2 separate regions of the Homo sapiens genome follow, and region 1 is linked to region 2. The links come from fine-mapping of genetic effects on gene expression. Tissue or cell type: whole blood. Region 2 holds a variant in brackets; the other region holds the start of a gene. All regions are shown on one strand. Distances are from middle to middle. Region 1 holds the start of MAMDC4 (MAM domain containing 4). Region 2 overlaps TRAF2 (TNF receptor associated factor 2).

The links. PIP is the estimated chance that this variant, and not a neighbour inherited with it, causes the effect. A credible set is the group of variants that fine-mapping cannot tell apart.
Region 1: MAMDC4 starts here. The variant in region 2 is the best candidate, but not a certain one, in a credible set for the expression of MAMDC4 in whole blood (TOPMed, PIP 0.50).

What each region holds. Positions count from the first base shown.
Region 1 is chr9:136,849,907-136,855,411 of GRCh38, reverse strand. It overlaps MAMDC4 (MAM domain containing 4), which reads right to left and starts at 3,066. Exons shown (of 27, transcript NM_206920.3): 1 at 2,950-3,066; 2 at 2,203-2,310; 3 at 1,954-2,127; 4 at 1,742-1,867; 5 at 1,505-1,635; 6 at 1,336-1,420; 7 at 1,076-1,201; 8 at 736-873; 9 at 562-650; 10 at 302-475; 11 at 74-158. The coding sequence starts at 2,995. PHPT1 (phosphohistidine phosphatase 1) reads right to left here. Exons shown (of 3, transcript NM_014172.6): 2 at 5,275-5,399; 3 at 4,388-4,657. The coding sequence ends at 4,565.
Region 2 is chr9:136,904,144-136,909,143 of GRCh38, reverse strand. It overlaps TRAF2 (TNF receptor associated factor 2), which reads right to left. Exons shown (of 11, transcript NM_021138.4): 5 at 913-1,074. Among named protein-coding and RNA genes, the nearest start is that of MIR4479, 20 kb to the right of the region's middle. The variant G/A (reference allele first, on the strand shown) is at 1,935.

The DNA.
Region 1 (5,505 bases), 54 kb after region 2:
GTCAGGAGGCAGGGATGGGGAGTGCTGTGCCTCTCCAGGGCAAGGCAGGGTAGGGCAGAGTCAGCAGGCTCACCCGAGACTGGTCTGCAGTGGTCAGACAGGATGAGGTCGTCCAGACCCACGACGCCCCCCGGGCCTGTCTGCCCGGCCAGGAGGATCTGAGGGCAGAGGGGCTCAGGGGGTGCCCAGCCTATTTCCCCCTGGGGTCTGGTCCCTGTCCACCCGCAGTGGGTACCTTGTGGGTTCCCCTCCCCTGCCCACAGTGCGGCTCCCCAGACCCCACCCTCTTGCTGTTCCCTACCTGGAAGGGGTAGGCGCTCTGGATGTCAACACGGTCTCGGACCCAGGCGGTCCCCAGCTCCCCTCGGCGCCTCCGCAGCAGGACGGGGGCCCGGGGGGCGCCGGGCCCCAGAGTCTGCAGGAACAGCTGGAGGCAGCCAGCCTCAGACCCACTCAGGTACTGATAGAAGACCAGCTGTGGAACCAAGAGCTGGCTGGGGGCCTGCACCGGGGCAGCCAGCACGGAGAGCAGGGAGGCCCTGTGAGCCCCACCCATCTCACCGAGCAGTTGGAGGTGCCTGAGGCTTGGAATTCGGGGCTGGAGAGTATAGCAGGGGTGCCAGGCTCGGCCACGGAGACCAGGAAGGAGCCTGCGGGAAAGGACGGGAGTGGGCCAGGGCCACTGGGCTGTGGCTGCGTGGGCAGGGCCTGGGCCGGGTCCTCTGTGGGCCTCACCCTGTGCACTGTTCCGGCTGTGGTCACGGCGTGGCCAGGAGGGGCGCTCAGGACCACCAGCGCGGTGGTTCCGGGACCAGCCTTCCGAGCGGTTCCATGGGCCCAGGCCTGTCTCAAAGTCGGTGGCTATGTGGCGGCCTAGGGCAGGAGGTGGGCGTGTCAGGGCCACCAGGCAGTGCTTCCTGAAGCCGTATGGCCCCAGCTCCAGGGGGGCCCTGGCAACCACACCCCAAGAAGGACCATCCAAGGATCCAAGGCACCCCCTCCTGGATGAGTGCCAGGGCCCCCACCGAGGCGTCCAGTCTCCCAGCCTCACTCTGGGCCCCCACTCCGGCCTCACCACAGGTGAGTGGGTTCTCATCAGACAGGTCCCCGCAGTTGTCTTCCCCGTCGCACAGCTGCTGGGGCTCCACGCAGACCTTGTTCTGGCAGTGGTGGTGTCCCGGGGGACAGTTGGCCTGGGGGGCTGGGTGGGGCAGGGTTAACCCTTCACCGAGGCCCCAGGAGTGGGAGAGCACTCGGGGGCAGACAGGGTCTGAGCAGGGGAGTGGGCAGGTGGGGGCCCTCCCGGGGGTGGAACAGGAAGAGGCGGTGCCTTACTGGGCAGACCACAGTCCCAGAACTCTAGGTCATCTAGAGCCACAGCGCCCCTGTGGGTGGCATTTCGGGTGGCAGAGAAGGTCACCTGAAGAGAACAGGCTCTTAGGACCTAAGTCAGGGCCCAGACCCCTCCTCAAGGCCCCCACTCGTCCAGACCCTCCCAGCTCACTCGGAAGTCACCCCGGATGCGGCCTGTGGTCACTGCCAACTCCTGCCAGCCAGGGCCCCAGGGCCCTGTGCTCTGCCACAGGGTCAGGGTCTCTGCGCCATGGGTCAGCTCCACCCGCAGTTCAGCCACATCTGCAATGTCAGGGGTCCCAGGGCAGCTGCGGCCCTGCTTGTCCCCAGCTGCCCACCCGCCCTCCCCTTGGGCACCCCCCACGAGCCTTGGGGGTCCAGGGTGCACCTCCAGAGGCCGCGTGGTACCAGAGCCTCAGCTTGCAAGAGGAGGCTGCCTCTCGCAGGGTTGGCGAGCGCAGGGCTGCGGTGGATGCCTCTTTCCCTCGGTGGGTTCCAACGGCCATGTACCAGCCTGGCGCAGGTGAGAGGTCAGGAGACGGGGCAGGGAGCAAGGAGGGTATTGGGACAGGGGCGCACAGAGACTTGCCCTGGCCTCACCCAAGTCGGTGCCCAGTGTGTGGTCTGAGTGAGGCCCAGGACCCTCCAGTGCGGCCCCTGCCCTGTCTCGGAGCCAGCTGTAGCCTGAGGTACTAATGTCCCGCCAGCCGCAGGGGTCCTGCTCGAAGTCACAGGCGAAGGGGGCGCCCAGGGTGGGCGAGGCCCCGTGGTAACCTGGGAGAGTGGGTGGTCAGGTGTGTGCCAGACCTGCTCGCACTGGCCCTGCCCGCCCATCTGGTCTTGGCTCACCACACTGGGCCTCATCTGAGCAGTCCCTGCAGTCACACACGAAGTTGCACACGGCCTGGCCAGGGCTCCTGCAGTGGTTGGGGACCCAGGCCCAGCCTGAGGACCCTGCTGCTGGGAGGTTGACAGCCAGGTGGCCTGGGGGCAGGGTGACCAGCCATCCCAGCCTGCCTAGGACTATTCAGTTTTAGCACTGGACATCTTTTGTCCGGGGATGCCCCTCAGACCAGGAGATGGAGCAGGGAGGGGCTGGGACCCACAGAGAACTCCCACCCGGCTCAGGACCAAGCACAGCACGTTCCTGTTTCCAGCCCTGAAGAGGCTGGGGAGGGGGACCCGGCCATGGGGCACCCCAAGAAAGGTAGCAGGAACCCAGAGTGCCCAGCAGGGAACTGGGCACTGGGAGGGCGACCCCCAATGGGAGGCATCGACGGGCGGCCCAGGGCCTCCACAAGCTCCACCCAGTCCAAGGGTGGCAGATGAAGGCTGGCAGAGCTGGGGGCACCTCCTGAGCCCTCTTGTCCCAGACTGGGAGGGGAGTCGTGCCTCTTCCTTTGCTTGGCAGGCCCGAGGACCCCATGGGCTGATTCCAGGTCACCCCCCTTGCAGGCCGGCCAAGGTAGTACCTTGCAACCCTCCTTCCCTTTGGGGCTCAGGCATCAGCCCTGGTGTCCGTCACTGCCACACAGATGGTAGGCTCAGAAGCCAGGGCCCCTGGTCCTGCCTCAGGAGTGGGACCAGACTACTTACCCAGGAACAGGACCAAGGCGGGCAGCAGGTGGCTGGACAGAGGCATGGTTGGGCCAGAGGGAGCAGTGCGGCCACACAGGGTGCCTGGGAAGTTCCGTGCGGTTATCAGCCTGCGCTGGCCCCGCACGCTGACTCTGCTGTTAAGTGGAGGGCCCCTCGGCCCGGCCCCACCCAGTGCTGACGGTGCCAAGCATGGGCCGTGAAAGTGGCCCCAGGAGGGGGCCTCTGACCCAGGGTCAGCTCCCACCTGCCCGGCTCCCTCAGACACAAGGTCAGGCTCTTCCACCCTGCCCTGCCCTGCCTGGTGAAGGGGAGGCTCCCACTGGAATGGGGAGGGACCCAGGCACCCCACCAGGACTCTGCTCGGCAGTGTGGGGCGGGCAGAGGCCGCCGTGGCCTCTCACTGTGCCTCTGGCAATAGCGTGGTGCTGGCCAAGGTCAGGACTCAACCAGTCCAGCAGCTGCAGGAGTCCAGCACGTGCACCAGAGCTGGTCCCTGCGTTCTCAGCCGTGGGGAACCTGCCTTTAAGTCAGGCTGTGGAGGATCACGCCGTCATTCATTCGTCCTGAGCAGCCAGGTGCTGTCCGGTGCCAGATACAGGGTCCCTAGGAGCCCAGAAACTTCGGTTTCTCATGGAGCAGACTCATGCTTGGGGCAGGGTCTTTGGGGCTGGGGAAGGAGTGTGGCATTTGGGGCCAGGCCCTGTTTGTGATTTCCCATGGTGTGACCTCGGAGCTTGTGTCACTGAGCCTCAGTGTCCCGGTCTGTAAAATGTGGTTATGACAGTGCCCGTCTGGAGAGGCTGGCCGGAGGACCAGTGAGCTGACAAAGGTGGGGGTGCCCTGTGTACAACCAGCCCTGGCCCCCAGGGTGCCCCTGCACCACCCCATGGAGTCCCACTGTGTATGGGGCTTCCCAGGGCAAGGCCTGAACCCGTGTCCTGCCCACAGCCCTGCCGGGTGCAAGAGGGACCTGGGAGGGGCCTCCAGAGTCAACGTGAGCCTGTGGGGTAGATGCAGCTGTGCGACCTGACCCTGGATACTGGTAGGCCCCATGGGGCTGGTCATGGAAGGAGCCTGCAGGTCACGGAAGGAGCCTCAGGGCAGACAGGACACTGGGGAGCCCTGGGATGGGCTCATAGGAGGGAGCACTGGTGGGCGCCCCAGGTCTTGGCCAGCCCGAGGGACCAGGCCCTGACTCCTCTCGCAAGGGCTTGCCAGACCTCCTCCAAGATGCCCTGGAGGACGATGGCCGTGGGAAGAGCAGTCAGGCCATCAGCGGGCCCCTTTATCAGACCCCAAAGGGCTGAGTGTGCACCGCCACTCCCTGGGGCCACTCCTGTGTTCCCCCACCCACCTGCTTTAGTTAGGGTCTGGGGGCCCCCGGAGGTGGTGACGCAGGGTGCAGGAAGCCAAGGACAGAGTTCAGAAGCCGGCAGGTGTGGCAACACGTTTAATTCTGTGGCCAGGCTAGCCTGTCTCCAAGGCCTGGTGGACAGCACGTCACCAGAGGCTGCCGCAGGAGCAGGCAGGGCCAGCCCTGCAAGAGGAGTGCAGGCAAAGGCGGGGGCTCTGAAGTGGCTGCTGGAGGCAGCAGGCCCCGGGCTGGGAGTGCTCAGTAGCCGTCGTTAGCCCAGGTGACCTCGTAGTCGGGGTACTTGGCTTTGATTTTCTCAGTTGAAATGGCGTGCTGGGCAGGACCATAGGCCTGGAGAAGAGAAGACGCCTGCTGGCACTACCTGGACCCTTCAACCCGATACCCGGCTCTGGGCATCCAGCCACCAGCCACACCAGAAGCGAGTGTGGGAAAGGGATAGGCAGTGCCTGGGGATGCCAAACCCACCATCCCGACCGCCCTTGGGGGCTCCCCTGGGGAGAGGCGACCTCCACAGGCAAGCAAACCTTGATGGTGGATCCTGGGGCCTGAGGCGCCCAGAGGGACGCACGTGGGTCTCATCTGCTGGTGGTTTTTGTGAAGAGCACAGGTGGGGACTCTGAGCTCCACCCAGGTACTGACTGCCTCTGGGGGCCCAGGGCCCAAAGTGCTGGAGGACAGCTAGAGCCCAGCAAGGCCTCCCAAGGCAGGGAGAGGAGACAGCCGGCCATGTCTGGGGGTGTCCGTCCCACCCCTCAGGTCTGGCGTGTGCTCCATGGGGGAATGCAGGAACACAATGGGCCCTGGAGGGAGGGCTCTGCCGCCGACCCTGGGAGAACCCCAGGAAGCCTGCGTGCTCAGCTGGGGCCACGGGTCAGGGCAGCAGGCTCAGGTGGGCCTCGAAGCTGGTACTGGGGCCTCCGGCAGGGCGGGACGGGGCTGCGGCTCACCATGGAATAGCCGTACACGTGAATCTTCTTGTCCTGACTCTGGTGGGAGATGCGCCCGCCGCCCAGACACTCACAGTCGCAGCCTTGCTTCTGCATGTCGCCCGACACTTTGTCGTAGATGTCCGCTGGGATGGGAGGGCGGCCTCAGGACGTGCCCTGGCCGCCCTTGGAGGCCGCGGGAGGAACTCCCAGCCGAAGGGGTCTGAAATCCCAGCTCTGAACAGCCCCTTC
Region 2 (5,000 bases):
CCACCGCACTCTCTACCTGATGCATTTAGACTTTTCTAAGACAAAAATGCTTTTTTGTCCTAAAAACAAACTTTTTTTAAAAATTTTTTTTCTTTTTTTTTTTTTTGAGACAGAGTCTTCCTCTGTTGCCCAGGCTAGTGTGCAGTGGTGCAGTCTTGGCTCGCTGCAACCTCTGCCTCCTGGGTTCAAGCAATTCTCCTGCCTCAGCCTCCCGAGTAGCTGGAATTACAGGCACTCGCCACCGTGCCTGGCTTTTTTTTTTTTTTTTTTTTCCGAGACGGAATCTCGCTCTGTCGCCTGGGCTGGAGTGCAGTGGCGCAATCTCGGCTCACTGCAAGCTCCGCCTCCTGGGTTCACGCCATTCTCCCGCCTTAGCCTCCTGAGTAGCTGGGACTGCAGGCGCCCGCCACCATGCCCAGCTAATTTTGTTTTTGTATTTTTAGTAGAGACAGGGTTTCACCATGTTAGCCAGGATGGTCTCGAGCTCCTGACCTCGTGATCTGCCCGCCTCGGCCTCCCAAAGTGCTGGGATTACAGGCATGAACCGCCGCACCTGGCCACTCCTGGCTAACTTTTTGCATTTTTAGTAGAGACGGGGTTTCACCATGTTGGCCAGGCTGGTCTTCAACTCCGGACCTCGTGATCCGCCCGCCTCAGCCTCCCAAAGCGCTGGGATTACAGGCGTGAGCCGCCGTGCCCGGCTTACAAAAATGCTTTTGAAAGGCCTCGGCATTAACTTCACACCCATTCCCAGTTCTGCCAAGAAACATCCGCCCGCGTGTCTCCAGGGAAAGGGCCGAGGGGGTGGAACGAGTGCAAAGGGGCCGACGCAGCCGCAGTGGCCAGCACGCAGCTCCCCAGCTCAGCCCCGCATGGCTGCAGCCACACAGGCTGCTGCTCCACCCCACGCACCTTCACGTCTGCTCCGCAGCAGGGTGCCCGGCAATGCCGGCAGCTCAGGCTTCTCTCCGGGCACTCGTGCTCCAGGTGGCGCTCCTTTTCACCAAGGCGGACCAGGCCTTTGCACGCGGGACATTCGGTCAGCATGAGCGGGCAGCGGCCTTCGTGGCAGCTCTAGCAACGAAAGGAGGAAGCGTCAGTAGAACTCGCGTGGGACATTTGGGCAGCCACAGCTTCACCCGGGGACACAAGGCGATGTAGCGCTGGCTTGGTGTCCGCATGCTGGTCCTGGGGGCCGCCCTCTGCAGATAGCTCTCAGGGCTCCCACAGGTGGGAGGGCAGGAGGAGATCAGATCAGTGTGTCCTCGTCTCCACTCTCTTCACCGCACACTGAGCTGAGGGGATGCTCTGCCATGGGGGTCTCTGTGTGGATGCCTTGCCACCACCAGGCTCCCCGATCTGCCCCCTGAAACAGCCAAGTGCACAGTCCCTGCTCTGCGCCAGCGGGTCCCTGCCACACACACCAGCTCCTAACCGAGAAAGCAGGCCACGCTCGATCTGATGACCAAGCCCAACGCGGTCCAGGCTGAGTCTTGCCAGTCCCAGCCCCATCCTCATTGCAGGTGGGAGGTGTGAAGAGGTAGGGAACACGCACGGGAGATAGCATGCGGGCAGCTGGCCTCTGCCTCCAGCACCAGGAAGCCAGCAAAGGCCTGAGGCACAAGCCCACCAGGCCAAGGTGCCAGGAGCTGGGTCTAGCTGCACAGCACACGCATCTGAAAGGGCCGAAGCTGCGAGGAAGACAGGCGAGGGCCAGTGACACACAGGAAGGTCACTCAGGCACCTACACGTTCCCACACACTGAGCCACCCAGGAGCTGGGCAGAGGCCCTGCCCTCCTGGAGCTGACAACCTGGTAGTGACCACCAGTGCCAGAACACCAGGGAAGGCAGGCAGTGGAGGCAGGGCCGGGGAAGGTGCCACAAGATGCAGACTGCAGACTAGGGAAGCGGGAGCCGGTGCCGCAGGCTAAGC[G/A]TCAGGCGAGGCAGAGGACTGTGGACGTCCACAGATGGCCAGGGTGGCAAGGGAAAAGGACACAGAGGGAAGGGAGGCGGTGCCAGCTCCTCGCCACACCCAGGCCAGGAAGAATCAAGAATGTAGGATGCAGAACCCAGCCACCTCTCCAGCCCACTGCTGCCCCAGGCAGGGCTTCCCCGACCGTCTTGAGGGCTCTGCCCGAATGTGAGGGGTCAGGACAGCAAGGTGACGGGATGTGGCTGAACCCTTCCAGGACTGCCTGGCAGCTGCACCTCTCACAGACTCTAAGGTTGGGAAGCCGCAGCAGTCACAGGAGGAAGAACGGGGTGGCAGGCACTACAAAGGTGCTAGTGTAACGGGAGAGAGGGCCGGATTCAGGATGTGTCTGGGGAGCCACGTGGACCTGCCGGCAGACTGAACGTGCCGCTTACAGGAACACAGAGAAGTCAAGAAGGACTCTCAGGCCTCTGGCCCAAGCCACAGGAGGTCCCACCTGCCTCCATAAGGGGCTGGTGAGGTACAGAAATAAAACTAAACAGGGCTTTTTGTTTTGTTTTGTTTTTTGAGACAGGGTCTCACTTTGTCACTGATATGGTTTGGCTGTGTCCCCACCCAAATCTCATCTTGAATTGCAACTCCCATAATCCCCATGTGTTGTGGGAGGGGCCTGGTGGGAGGTCATTGAATCATGGGGTGGGTTTTTCCCGTGCTGCTCTCGTGATAGTAAGTCTCATGGGATCTGATGGTTTGATAAAGGGCAGTTCCCCTGCACATGCTCTCTTGCCTGCTGCCATGTGAGACGTGCCTTTCTCCTCCTTTGCCTTCCTCCATGATTGTGAGGCCTCCCCAGGCACATGGAACTATGAGTCCATTCAACCTCTTTTTCTTTATAAACTACCCAAGTCTCGGGTATTTCTTTATAGTAGTATGAAAATGGACTGATACAGTTACCTAGGCTGGAGTGCAGGGGTAAGAATACAGGTCACTGCAGCCTCGACATCAGCACCCACATAGCTGGGACTATAGGAATACAGGCACGCACCACCACACCCAGCTAAATTTCTTTGTATTTTTGGCAGAGCCATCTTGGTTTTTTGTTTTTGTTTTGAGATGGAATCTTGCTCTGTCGTGCAGTGGCGCGATCTCGGCTCACTGCAACCAGCAACCTCCACCTCCTGGGTTCACGCCATTCTTCTGCCTCAGCCTCCTGAGTAGCTGGGACTACGGGCGCCCGCCACCACACCCGGCTAATTTTTTTGTATTTTTAGTACAGACAGGGTTTCACCGTGTTAGCCAGGATGGTCTCAATCTCCTGACCTCGTGATTCACCTGCCTTGGCCTCCCAAAGTGCTGGGATTACAGGTGTGAGCCACCGCGCCCGGCGGTAGAGCCATCTTACCCAGGCTGGTCTTGAACTCCTGAGCTCAAGCAATCTGCCCACCTAAGCCTCCCAAAGTACTGGGATTACAGGCATGAGCCCCTGTGCCTGGCCAGAGTTAAACACGTCTTTTGGGAGAAGTCTGCTATGACTGGGAACAGAGAAAGGGAATGGAAGTCAAAGGAACAGGAAGTTGAAAATCTGCTGTTTCTTCAATCATGATAAACATAAAATGTATCATCTTAACCATTTTCAAGTGCACAGTTCTGTGGTATTAAGTACATTTCACTGATGTTATGTAACCATCACCACCATCTACCTCCATCACGCTTTCCCATTGTAGAAACCTGAAACCCTGTCCCTGTTAAACCCTAACTCCCCATTCCCCTGCTCCAGCCCCCAGCACCATCTATTGGCTCTCAATTTGACCACTCCGGGGACTCTGTCAGTGAATTCACGCAGTCTTTATCTTCTTGTGCCTAGCTTAGCTCACTGAGCACAACACTAAGTTTTGAGACAGGAGAGACTAGAGCATATTCTGTACCGATGGGCACAACCCGGAGAGAGGAGGACAATGTGCTGAGAGGAAGGTTCCTGAGAGGCCAGGGCAGCAGAGGACCTGGCTGCGGGGCCCTTCATGGGGTGGGGAGTGGGGGTCAGCAGCTCCATAGAGAGCTGGCTACAGCTCAGGAGCCCCAAGTGACTCAGGAAAGGTTAATGCTACTTCCCCCAAGAGGGGAGACCCTGCTCTGGACAGCACAGGCACTTGGGCTGGCTTCCATTCAACCTCCCCAGGGAGTGTTCCTCCCAAACCTTCACACAGGCACAGCAACTACTCCTTAGAGGCGCCCCAGGGAACATGGGCCCAGCCCTCCAAGACCTCCAGCGGCACTGGCCCAAGCTAAGCCTGCTAAAGGAACCAACTCCCTGAACCCAACAGCGCCTTGCACTCTGCTACCCACTGACGGGACAGGACCCAGCCCTCGGCCACACTAGTGTGTAACAAGCCACCATCAAGCTGAATCAAAGAGGAGCCTCAGCAACTATTCTGGCTTATGAAACCTAAAAACGAAAGCACAAATAGTCAATGTTCTTAGATTTAATTAAAAGACTGTTCTTTAGGCCAGGCGCGGTGGCTAACGCCTTGTAATCCCAGCACTTTGGGAGGCCGAGGCGGGTGGATCACGAGCTCAGGAGATTGAGACCATCCTGGCTAACACAGTGAAACCCCGTCTCTACTAAAAATACAAAAAAAATTAGCCGAGAGTGGTGGTGAGCGCCTGTAGTCCTAGCTACTCGGGAGGCTGAGGCAGAAGAATGGCGTGAACGTGGGAGGTGGAGCTTGCAGTGAGCCGGGATCGTGCCACTGCACTCCAGCCTGGGCGACAGAGTGAGACTCCATCTCAAATAAATAAAAAAATAAAAATAAAAAAGACTGTTCTTTAAAACATAGTAAAATGGCCGGGCACAGTGGGTTCCCACCTGTAATCCCAGCACTTTAGGAGACCAAGGTGGGAGGATCACTTGAGCCCAGGAGTTTGAGGCTGCAGTGAGCTATGATCCCACCACTACACGCTAGCCTAGGCAACAGAGCGAGACTCTATTTCTAAAAATAATAGTAATAAAATGCTCATAGGTGAAATGATATGACATCTTCATTTGCTTTAAAATAAGCCAGAAAAGAA